2 linked regions of the Homo sapiens genome follow. The protein of the gene in region 2 interacts with the protein of the main gene of each other region in a pairwise test. Each region holds a gene or a part of one and is shown on either strand. Other genes may lie near its edges.

Region 1 (4,009 bases), on a different chromosome or scaffold from region 2:
CCGTTATCTCCTTTGGGTGGAAGTTTCCAGACCGGCTCTGTTCTTTGGGAAGGAAATGGCTGGAGGTGCCATGCCTCCAGGTCCCAGTTCTGCCACCAAGGTCTCAGTGATTGACCTGGCTTTGGGCGGCGAGCGGACCATGGTCCTGACGGTCGCGAACTCAGGGCCCGTGGGACTGGGTGCCCTGTGCCTAGTTCACAAGCCTACAGCCTCAGGCTCCAGCACCATCCTCAGCATCCCATCGGGTCTCAGGCCTCCGTGGCTGTGGGCTCCCTCCCGGGCATGTCCAGGGCTGCAGCATCATCTTGGCAGACTTGGGACCTGGCGGACTCCCTGGGCTCTTCCCTGTCATCCTGCCCTTTCCTCTCCTGCTTCTTCTGTAACAAGAGGCAGGAAGGAGCCCGCGGGAGATGGGGAGACTCGGACCAGCCTCACCGTGTTGCCGCACACCCTTGCCTGCCCCTCCAGAAGCCTCTCTCGGGCCCAGGGGGACACACAGGTCTTAGAAATGGTTTATTGACAAATGGCTTCTGGGGAGGGGGCCAGGATTCCCTCTTAGCTACAGAAGGTTCCAGGGTCCAGCTACAAGCAGGGCCCTCGCACGGGGCTCACACAGAGCAAGGCCACTCAGCTGGAATGTGGCCCCTCAACACCACTGCGCCCAGGCTCCCGGACACTGGACCCCTTTGCAGGGGTCTGGGTGTCCCCTGAGGCCGGGGCCGGCTTCCCTCGGGGTGCTCGGTACTTGTTCTTCTGGCCGTAGAACAGGTTCCTCTGGAAAAGGTGGGGAAGGCGGCCCTGGTGCAGCAGCACAGCCAGGACCATCCCTGCAAGAGAAGGCAGGTCCCAGGTGGGCCGCGGGGCTCCTGGGCCCAAACACAGACAGGACACCCACTCCCAGGCCTGTGCCAGGACAGGCGAGCCAGGCAGCCTGGCCAGGAGCCCCAAGAACCCTGAGGCCCAGCTCCTGCCTGGTCCTGGTCTTCCCGCCCTGGTCATGCCCCTCTCTCTGGGTATGCCAGCCATGGGGACGGGGGCAAGCCGGTGGGGTTCCTTGTACTTCTGGACCACCCTCTGGGATGAGTGACTGGAATTCCCCTCCCCCCACATTGTCCTGAGCCACTCCCAGAGCTTCTGTGGCCATTTTCCTCCGGGACCTGATGTGGCGTCCCAGGGTGGCTGCTTGCAGGGCTGTGGCCTGGCGTAGAGGTGGGGGATGTGAGTGGACAAGAAAGATGTGGATGCCCCTGGGTGGGAGGCTGGGCCTGGCTAAATCCTCATGCGAACGTTCTCCCAGAACTCCAGGAGCAGAGACTCCTAAATCCCCGCCTGCCTTCCAGGTCATTGGGAAGGGCAGGTGTTCCGGGCAGAAGGGGAGAGTAGATCCTCTTCAAGTTTGATCTCACTCCTCTAAGGATTTAACCCACAGTGTGTGAGCTCCACTAGGGCTGGCCTGAGGGGGCCCTGCCTGTCACCACCTGCAGCTGCTGTGGCTCCTGACAGTGGCCCCTGTGCCTACAGCTTGCCTACAGTTGCCCCTCACTCGGCCCTCCAGGCCCACACTGGTCCTAGCTCTGTTCCCAGGAGGGCAGGCCCAGGGAGGCGGGATGACCTGCTCAGGGGTGCTGCCAGCAGGTGCCGGTGGCCGCTCACACCCAGGGAGATAGCCCCATGTCCACACCTGGCTACGGGGCTCCTGGCTGCAGCCTTGGAGCTCCCCAGGGCTCATGCTGATACTGAACTTGTGGATAAAGGGGTTAATGGAAGGACACAAGCCTGTTTTTCGGTTTCCTGAAGCTGCCCTAAGATGACAGGAAAGGGATGCTGTCAGAGGTGTCAAGCATCCAGATGGATGAGACGGGAAGAGACGCAGGAGCACAGCGTGGGGCTGACAAGCATGTGGACGACCAAACACTGCTGACATGGAGGGGCCGGATCGCCCCTCCGCAGGGACGAAAGCTGGGAAACAACCCAGTTCTTCCGCAGATGCCCCATGCTTTCAGAAGCTGGCGCCCGGGTCCCTGTGGGATGGGGTGGCCCTGGGACTCGCCTAGGAGGAGGGACGGCAATTCCGCATGGGAAGCTCCAGGGCCCCAAACCCCAAAATACAGAAGCAGCCAGTGCCCCCCTCCCTGGCCCTGGCAGGAGACAGGTTCCTCTCTAGAGGGGGCATGTGGACTCGAGTATCAGGCCCGCCCAAGCCTGGAGTCCCGCCTGAAACACGGATCCCAGCCTCCTCCTACTTGGCTCCTAGAAGCCGCAAATGCCCTTTGGGCTTCTCCACAGAGGCAGTTCTACAGTGAGAGGTTGCAGCCGGGTGAAGAGTATTTCCCCAGCGACACGCCCTTCCCAGAACACAGGATGTGCCCTTGTTAGAATACGGCCTGGGACATAAAATCAGTGAAATCACGGTGACGTCATACTTGAGTAGAGTGAACCTCCAATTCGATGACTGGTGTCCCTATATGAAGAGAACAGACAATGACACAGAGGAGGCGGCCAGGGGAACCGGCAGACATGGGAGTGCTGCGTCTCCAAGCCCGGGGACACCGGGGGTGCCAGAGGCCCCCGGAGCCCGGAAGAGGCAGGAGGCTCCTCCCCAGCAGCCTCCGAGGAGAGCTGACCCTGTCAGTGCTGCCAGCTCAGACTCCAGCCTCCAGAGCTGGCTGAGCATACAACCCTGTCACGTGAAGCCTCTTCGTTTGCGTCCTTTGCCTTGTAGCCCGTGAAGCCACCACAGGCCATGGTTGGGGCCTGAGAAACTCAGGACGAAACTGAGCTCCCACCCGGAACCCTGCCCAGGCCTCACCGACACTCAAGTGCAGGTCAGAACCAGGACACTATTTCAGACACAGGAGGTCTGAAGTGTACCTGCCAGGTCCCCGTTCTCAGGAAGCTACTGTGAGACGGGCACCAGCAAAAAGAAGGAATCAACCGAAACAGGAGGCGATGAGGAAAGCAGGAAACAGAAATACAACCAGGATCAGTGAAGGGCAGCACCATACCGGAGATGGACGCCTGCGGGTAACCCGGAGCTGCGGATCCTCGGGGGAGACGCTGCCCACACAGAGCACTGGTGCTGAACTAAGGAAAGCACCCAGAAGCCTGGGCAGGAGAGAGTCCAGGACCTCGTCACCCGCAGGAAGCAAGGCCTGTGCAGGAGCGGAGAGGCCTCCGGGGCCACCACAGCTCACCCGGGCCGTGTTTCCATGCCAGGGAACTAGAGGGGGCTCTGGAGCTGATCAGGAGGAAGAGGCCGACCCACCCGGAGTGAAGGATCCGCAGGAGGAGCGTGGGGAGGCAAGGAAAGAACATCCGCCCCCCACATCCCAGGAGACAGCCCAGGGTTGATACCTGAACTGAAGAGTCTCGGAGAAGCCCTGCAGGCCCAGTGTGTGGGGACAGAGAGGCCAACACGGAGCTGTTCCTAGCAGAGGGCAGTGCTGCCTCGGCAACGGGGGCAGGAGGGGGTTCCTGATGCACTTCGTATGCTTCCTAGGACCCTGCACATGCCTGAGAGACTGTGACCACATCAGAACCATGGCGACAAATCACGATGACGTCAGTGTCACCATCGCAGGGCCAGGTGCCTGAGAGACCCCCAGCTCCTGTCTTTCCCCCCAAGGGGAGGCTGAGGCATTGCCCCTGAGACCTCCCCAGTGTAGAGCCAGCAGAAGCTGAAAAAAGCTTCCAGAATTCCATAGGAACCCAGCTGCCCTTCTGGTACCTCAGTGAGGTGGAGCCGAGTGTCTGAGAGCAGGTGCAGGAGAAGGTGTGGGCTCCACCTGGGCCTCTGAAGCCAGGGGCCAGAATCCCCAGATCTAGGTCCAAGAGGGGGCTCCATGACCTCCCCATGCTGCTCCTCTGCTTGGATCCAGGATATAAGAAAGGAGGGGCACACACTGTGGGGGAACTCTGGGGTCCCCTGTGTGCATCAGCGAGTCCCGGGTCTGCCCCACCAGGATGCAAAGGGCCTGGCTGCTCCAGCCCCATGCTCACAGCCCTATAA
Region 2 (7,041 bases):
ACTCACCTCCCTTAAAATTCAGCAGAACCAGAGGTGCCAGAAATGTCAAAAAATATCTAGTCATTCCAATATGTAAAACAAGACTGCCTTGTTTTAAAAAAACAAATTAAATGTAAAAATTGTATGACTCTTACCCAGTGAAAAGCTTTACTAACACAGCCCTGGGTGCTATTTCCAGATACTGAAAAGATCTAAGTAGGTGCTTAAGAACTGCTTTTTAACCCATTCACAACCTTCATATTAAACTAGGATGAGGCTGCAGGAGCTGAGGAAGGAAGGCCTGGGTGGGAACCTGGATGTCCTTTCCTGGAGAACAGCTTTGCTATTTCACTGGTAACTCCGAAACTTCAAAATATTGACTGTACAAATTACTCAAGTTTATTTTGGCCTAATTATTCTTAAGAAAGGTGGTTCTTTTTTAGAAAAGGGAAGCAGAAGCTAATTGAAATTCCATTACTCAGGCCTCTAGTAAGTGCCCCCTTCATGTAGTCACTATTCACTGAGGGCCATGAGGGTGAGGCCCTGCTGGGGGGGCAGGGCAGGGCTGTGAGCTCAGGAGCCCATCCCTGTGCTCAGAGAGATGGGACTCCAATGAGGAGACACACTATGTAGGTGCAATTTCTGATTTCTTAGTTTTTGACCAAAATAGCAGTAATTTCAAACAGTTGAATGTCGTGATCGATACTATGTCAGTTGGTGATGAATGCTGTGAATGGTATTGAATGTCCTGGACCAAGAGGAACAGCAACATGTCCTTAGTCCTCAGCCTAAGAAGTCCATCGAGTCCTTCTCTCAAATTGTACGTCTGTTGTTTTCAAAAGCCATTGTGACAGGTCAAAACCCTGGAGTATTTGGTTTGTGTTTAAATGTACTTGACACTCTGGAAACACTCAACCTAAGCCCTGGATGCAGGAGGCAGGGATGCTGAGGATGTGAATTAGAGTGCTGGGATGTGCTAATGCCTAGGGAGGCATCAGGCACTGTGCTGGCTTGGGGGATCCTGTGATGACTGGAACCTGGGCCTTCATTACGGGCTCCGGTTTTGGAGTGCAGAGGGATTGGCATTTGTAAAGACTGCTTGCTTACCCTTTGTCTGGCATGCACATTCAGGATGTGACTTCAGCTTCATTCATCCTGGCCAAACAAAAAAAGTTCAAAAAATTGTTTTCAATTAAATTTCTGAAGATCTTTGTAGGGAAGCACCCTTCTGAGATGAAACCAATTTCTTGTCCACACAGCCACCATATCCTTATATAGATGGGGAAAAATCCAGAAAAGGGGGATTTTCAGCAGCTGGCTTGAAGCCCCTGAATGGTCCCTTGGCAGAGGCAAAGAATGAGCCCAGAGCCTGAGATTCAAGATGCTGGTCTCTTCTGAACACACCGTGGAGCAATGTGGTGCACCTGCAGATGCCGCACTCAGCAGCCTGGAATGCCAGCTCTCATGCCCTCACCTAGAAACGCCTTCTCGGCTGAATGGCTGTTGGCTCTCAGCAGCACCTGTCAGCATAGCTCGGCCGCTTCTGCCCCGTGCCAAGGCGTGACTAGGACCAGAAGAATCAGAAAGCATGGTGGAGTCCGAAAGCATTGGCAAAGCCAGCACATCTGTGAGCATGTTACACATGGGCTTGCCTAAGTATTTCCTTCTCTGTGAACATCACTTAGGAGCTACGTCAGTTAAGGCATCGTGAGACACAGGTGTGGTGGAGGCATTATGAGGGGACTACTCCACAGGACCTTGGAGAGTTGCATTTTGGGGGGCTCTCCTAGAAGCTCTGGGGGAAGGAAGCAGTGGCCTCCTGGTCAGCTACAGACACAGGCGGGTTAGGGCCCGTCTTGCTTTCATGTTCTTTTAAACACAAATGGCAGCTCACAAATATTCCTCTAAATATTCCTCCATACAGCCTAGGGCCCCTCAAGAGACGTGCAAACCAAAGTATTTGTTTTTCTCACTTTATCTTTAACCTAGTATGTGGCAAGTCTGGACCACTGCTTTAGAGAAAGCTGGATTAAATCTCTTGAGCAGAAGTAGAGACCCTAGAGAATCTTCACTGGATACCTTGCTTCACACTTTGGTCAATATTTATGAATAAGTTCTAAAGCCTATGCGAAGCCCATTCTGTTTTGCTTGGGGACCAGCCAGACCACTCCTCCACTCCAGTGGGGCCTTTTTTGTGTCTTTCACATCACTGTTACAAGTTGTGGCTGGACAATTAATGACATTTAAATCACTGTCCCACATATGGATATATTAGAAAAACCCTAATGTTTTAAAATTTTTTTAATCATCAGCTGCTTTTACAAAGCTTTGCATGCATTTGTTTAGAGGATATTGCAGTCGAGATATTCCAGTACTACTGTGTGATCATATGAAAAAAGTTGGTTTTCTCTCTGTCAAAGTCAATAGGGTGGTAGACTAACTCACAGAGTGCCTTACTTCTTCCTCCCGATTAATCGTGTTCACTATATGGTGGCAGAATCAGTCCAGTCCCCCAGACCTCAAGCTGCATCTTCCAAATGGTTGGTGTCTTTTTAAGAGTCCCCGTGGGCTGGCTTTCCTGGAAGAAGTCCATTAAATTCCCTGCTTCTATAAGCTGCAGGAGTCGCCTAGGATATGGCCCGTCACGTCTGGGGATGACCCTGCACTGCTCTCCAGATTTCACTCAAGGTTCGTATTTTTCTCTGCCACCTTGAACTACAGAACAGGCTCTCAGTAGCGTGATAAGCTTTAAGCTAGAATGAGATGGAAAGGTGGGAAAGACAGACAGGAAGTGTAGCTCTTAGTCTATGGGGCTCTCCTTAGGGGACAAAAAGATGGCTTAGGCTCCGTGGGTTTTCAACTCGTAGAAAAAATAACCCTGGGAACCAAAGCAGTTGTTGTGTGCTGAGGAGATGGTGACCTCCGTGTGACCTGAACATGGGTGAAGGTATTTGAGGAGGCGTGATGAGCTTCCGTCCAGGAGTACCCGTGGTTGTCTGTGTCATTAAGGGCGCAGGGTGTAAGGAAACCAGGTTCCCAGGCTGCATAACAAAATTGTTCTTCGTGGACAGGTCAAATGACTGATGAGAAAGAGGTCCAGATCTCTCCCCAGCACGCCACATTCTCTTTCGGCTCTAAGGCAATTCAAAACTTGGCGCTCACTTAGTTATTTCCTAAGAGATTTCTGCCTGCATTCCTCCAGCCTGGAACCCAAGGCCCTAGCAGGCAGGCTGTTTGCTTGCTTGTGTGTTGTGTGATACCAGAGCCAATTCAGAAGAAAATTGAATGTCTGTGGGCCCCCGGATCTATGTTTTTAGAACTTACTTAGATTACTTCTGTGTTGAATGGAAGAATGAAAATGAGAAAAATAACACATTTTTAGTACGACAAGAAAATTTCTGAGCATTTTTGAGAGTAGCAACATAGAGGCAGCTTTCTAGTCTTTCATCCTTGGCTTAGTGCTTTAGGATTCTTAAAGTGTGCTCTTTTACCCTTGACACACCCCAAGAGGTAGATATCGTCACCCCCATTTTGCAGATGGGGAAATGAGTCAGCAAGGAAAAGTGTCTCACCCAAATCCTACAGCCGATGAGCTGCAGAGTTCAGGTGAATGGCGTAACTCAGCATCACGGACCCCTCCGAGAGACTGGCCCGATAATCCAGGCGCAGGTCCACTAGGGCGTGCTCACAGACACGCAAGGCTACACACCATGCACACCTCCACTTCTCCAAGGACCCCTCTTGCCTAAGGTCACGTCCTGGGCTTTTGCCCACAGATCTCTGCACACGGTGCTTCATGCCCTGTGCAGGGTGGGCAGATGTGCTGGGCGCTCCCATCAAGCCTGCCTGCAGGGCCGCCAGCGAGTTAACTCAGGCCCTAGGCTCTGCAGTACGCTCTTCCCACAAGTCAGCCAGGATTTTTTCCCTTTTTCACTTCTGTGGATTCAAATAATTCATTTGTATCAACAAACAAACAATGCATTATTGTCCTGTAAGCAGAGGGAGCTTCTCTAGAGCTGTCTTGTAACTCCTTGGCTTACCTAGTTTGGTTGATAAACAATGACTAAATGAGCAAATAGCCAAAAACATAACTGCATAGAATAGGCCTTATAATGTGTGGCCAGTTTTTGTATAGAGCTGTTCATTCCTTCTCATGTTACCACAGCAACACAGGCAGCTTTTCTCAGCAACTTTCAGCTGCGCACCTGGAGAAAGACATATCCTTCCTAACTCATGCTCCAAATACCTATCGGTCCAAGTGCCATTGGTGTCTTGGCCTAAGATGATTTAATAGCTAGCATTTGTTCTGCAAAAATAGCACTGCTTTTAGTTTCTTCTTCTTTTGCATTTTTGGCACCTGTTGGCTGACAGCAGTCTGCAAAGGCCGCTGGAGATGCTACAGGGCAGAACTATTCCGTGGAGTAAAATGGGAGCAGACAGGAGCCCGGAAGGAAGGCAGAAGCCTGGGGGTTTTTTGTACATGGGATGTCGGCTCTGATTTGACCCTCATCAGAGCAGGACCTGGCTCCTTTAGGGCTGCAGACAAGCTCTACATGCTGGGAAGGGGCGAGGCATTTTATAAAGTGAAACTGCATTTTATCAGGGGTGACTTTGGCTGTCACTGCTGAGAGGAACAGTCGATGCAAGCTCATCTCACAAATCACTGCAGAATGCCCAGGCTGTACGTTCATGATGTTTGTGTTCAATTTCAAGATCCATTTCTTCAGGGAGTTGGGTCCATCTTCAAGACTTACGCCAGGAGACTGCACTGCAGAGACCGAGCGAAACTCTCCCTTGCTGTGTGCCAGGGACACGCTTCGTTGGTCTCCACGCACGTGCTTGCCATCTCTGCTCTCACAAATGCTCACGGGCTCCTGGACCTGTGTCTCCTGCCAGGAGCTGTGCTGGCCTGCCCACCCCTCTCAGCTGCCCACACCTCCGCGGCAGCTGCCTCCCGTGAGTAGGATCTGAAACACCAAAGCCACGGGCAAGGGCAGGATGGAGGGGCAGCGGTCCATGTCAACATACACCACAGATGACCCAGAAAAGCACTTTAATTTTTTTTTCTTGGAGGCATAATTTAGTCATCTCACCTAAAGCACTTTTCACTTTATCTCTGGCAACCAAGGGTTACAGAAAACTCAGCACCAAAGGATGAAAGGGGAACTTGTCCCCTTCGGTCCCCAGCCCTGCCCTCCCCTGCAGCCTAAAATACCCTTTCTATGATCACAGAACAAAGTTCACACTCACCACACAGCCATTCTCACACACACTCGCACAAAAAGAAAACCAAAGCCCACTAAAGCACATGGGGAAAAAAAGATTACAAAACATCTTCCTCCCCATCCGGCCTTGAGACCAGACTCCCTGGCTGGAGAGGTCGTGACTTCCGCCGTGCCCAGCAGGGGCTCACCCAGCCTTTGTCACCGTGTCCCACTAAGGAGGATATGCAGAGGCCACCAGTTCCCCAAGGTTCCCTTCGGATGGTGACACCTCCCTGAGTCAGTCATTCAGTTTCTGCTTGCTGTCAGAGTTGCCGTAGGCAGAGCCCTTGTCAATTTCCGTCACACCAATCATCCATCGAACTCCCACGGAGGCTGCAGAGACAAGGAGAGCAGAGTTAGGAGTAGCCCAAACAGACTACAGGGCCGTTTTCCCACAGAGCAAGTGAGAAGGCCCGTGGCCGCAAATCACAAGCGCCAGCTCAGAGCTGGCTGGCGGGTTTGAGGTGCCATCATCCTGCCGGCTTTACAATCATCCTTGAGTGTGGACATCCATGTGACATTAAGACAAAGCAAGGCTGCTCTGGTGGGGGTTTTCCTCCTTGGACCCTGAAGGTGAATGATTTGGCAAGCCATGCACAGCCGTTCGCAGGGACTCAGAGAAATCCCTGGCTTCCTCTGCTGACCCCCAGGTAAAGAGGATTCTTTTGTGAATAAGGGACAGGAAGTTAACAGGGCATGTTCAGCGAAGTTTTATAAAGAACAGACCAGGAGCCTGGAAGACGCAAGAGCTCGAGTATCGAGTGCCCAACACGTTTCAGCACTGCTTTTGGTGCAAGCGTTAGAGCAGTGAGAAAATCCCCGCCCTCTCCTCTGACGGCAGGATTTGCCTACACCAGAGAATGGGCAGGACCCTCGTGGGAGCCCAGTTTAATATAGGAAGCTGGAAAGCAGGGCCTAATGCTCAGAAGTTGCAATTTCAACTACACCCTCTGGAGCGGGCAGATGTGGTGAGGTCCTTGGGTGCAGGGCCCAAGACTTAATCATTTGATGTGCTCAGCACTGGGCATGGGGCTTGGAAAACAGTCCATTTATAATACATGCTTAAGAATGGATAGACGAATAAGTGAATGAAATCCCCCAAATCATGATGCACAGGATTATCTAGCATTAGCATCGCGGTCGATAAACTAACTGGGACATGGATGCAAGAGCCTGGGATGGGCGAATCCAGCCCAGCCAGCAGGAGGCACGCATCTCCCATGGGTCATTTACAAACTGGAGGGCTCCTGCATGGAGCGTAACAGTAACAGTGAGAGTGGAGTTATTGTAGAGCAGAAAGAAGTGAGTAAAACGTGGACCGTGTGGCCTTGGAAGAGGAGTAAAGAACACAAACACAAAGTCCTTCAGGGAAGAATGCAGTCAGGCGCAGGCTCAGAGTAATGGGGCACGGCAGTCAGCTCCTCAGATGCTCCTGGAGACGCCGTGTCCACACTGCACCCCTCAGATGCTCCTGAAGACTCCCTGTGTCCACACTGCACCCCTCAGATGCTCCTGAAGACTCCCTGTGTCCACACTGCACCCCTCAGATGCTCCTGAAGACTCCCTGTGTCCATACTGCACCCCTCAGATGCTCCTGGAGACGCCCTGTGTCCACACTGCACCCTGGGCAGTGCTCAGGCTTCTTTTTTTGGTACTCGCTACACAGCTGGGTGGCCCTGTCTGCAGCCTTCATCCTGAAGGGGCCCCTCTCCAAGACGGCGTGGGTGTGTGTGTGCCTTGCTGTTGCCTGCTATTGAAGCAGAAGGGTTGAGCTTGCCCCCGCCCTACCAGGGGCCCT

The links. Proteins that work in one complex are often made in the same cells at the same time.
Region 1: the proteins of AGPAT4 (region 2) and AQP12B interact in binary tests that used the Homo sapiens proteins (3 or more experiments, as listed by UniProt).

The regions. Positions count from the first base shown.
Region 1 is NC_000002.12:240,675,918-240,679,926, forward strand, and holds the end of AQP12B (putative aquaporin-12B), read right to left. Parts: intron 3,868-4,009; coding exon of another isoform or gene 3,569-3,867; exon of another isoform or gene 3,522-3,568; coding exon of another isoform or gene 3,355-3,521; exon of another isoform or gene 3,106-3,354; coding exon of another isoform or gene 3,006-3,105; exon of another isoform or gene 2,894-3,005; intron 2,462-2,893; coding exon of another isoform or gene 2,424-2,461; intron 1,803-2,423; coding exon of another isoform or gene 1,682-1,802; intron 828-1,681; coding exon 628-827; coding exon of another isoform or gene 609-627; 3' UTR 501-608; downstream 1-500. UniProt on the Homo sapiens protein: Putative aquaporin. Could form homotetrameric transmembrane channels, with each monomer independently mediating water transport across the plasma membrane along its osmotic gradient.
Region 2 is NC_000006.12:161,131,059-161,138,099, forward strand, and holds part of AGPAT4 (1-acyl-sn-glycerol-3-phosphate acyltransferase delta), read right to left. Parts: intron 5,577-7,041; coding exon 5,482-5,576; 3' UTR 1-5,481. UniProt on the Homo sapiens protein: Converts 1-acyl-sn-glycerol-3-phosphate (lysophosphatidic acid or LPA) into 1,2-diacyl-sn-glycerol-3-phosphate (phosphatidic acid or PA) by incorporating an acyl moiety at the sn-2 position of the glycerol backbone.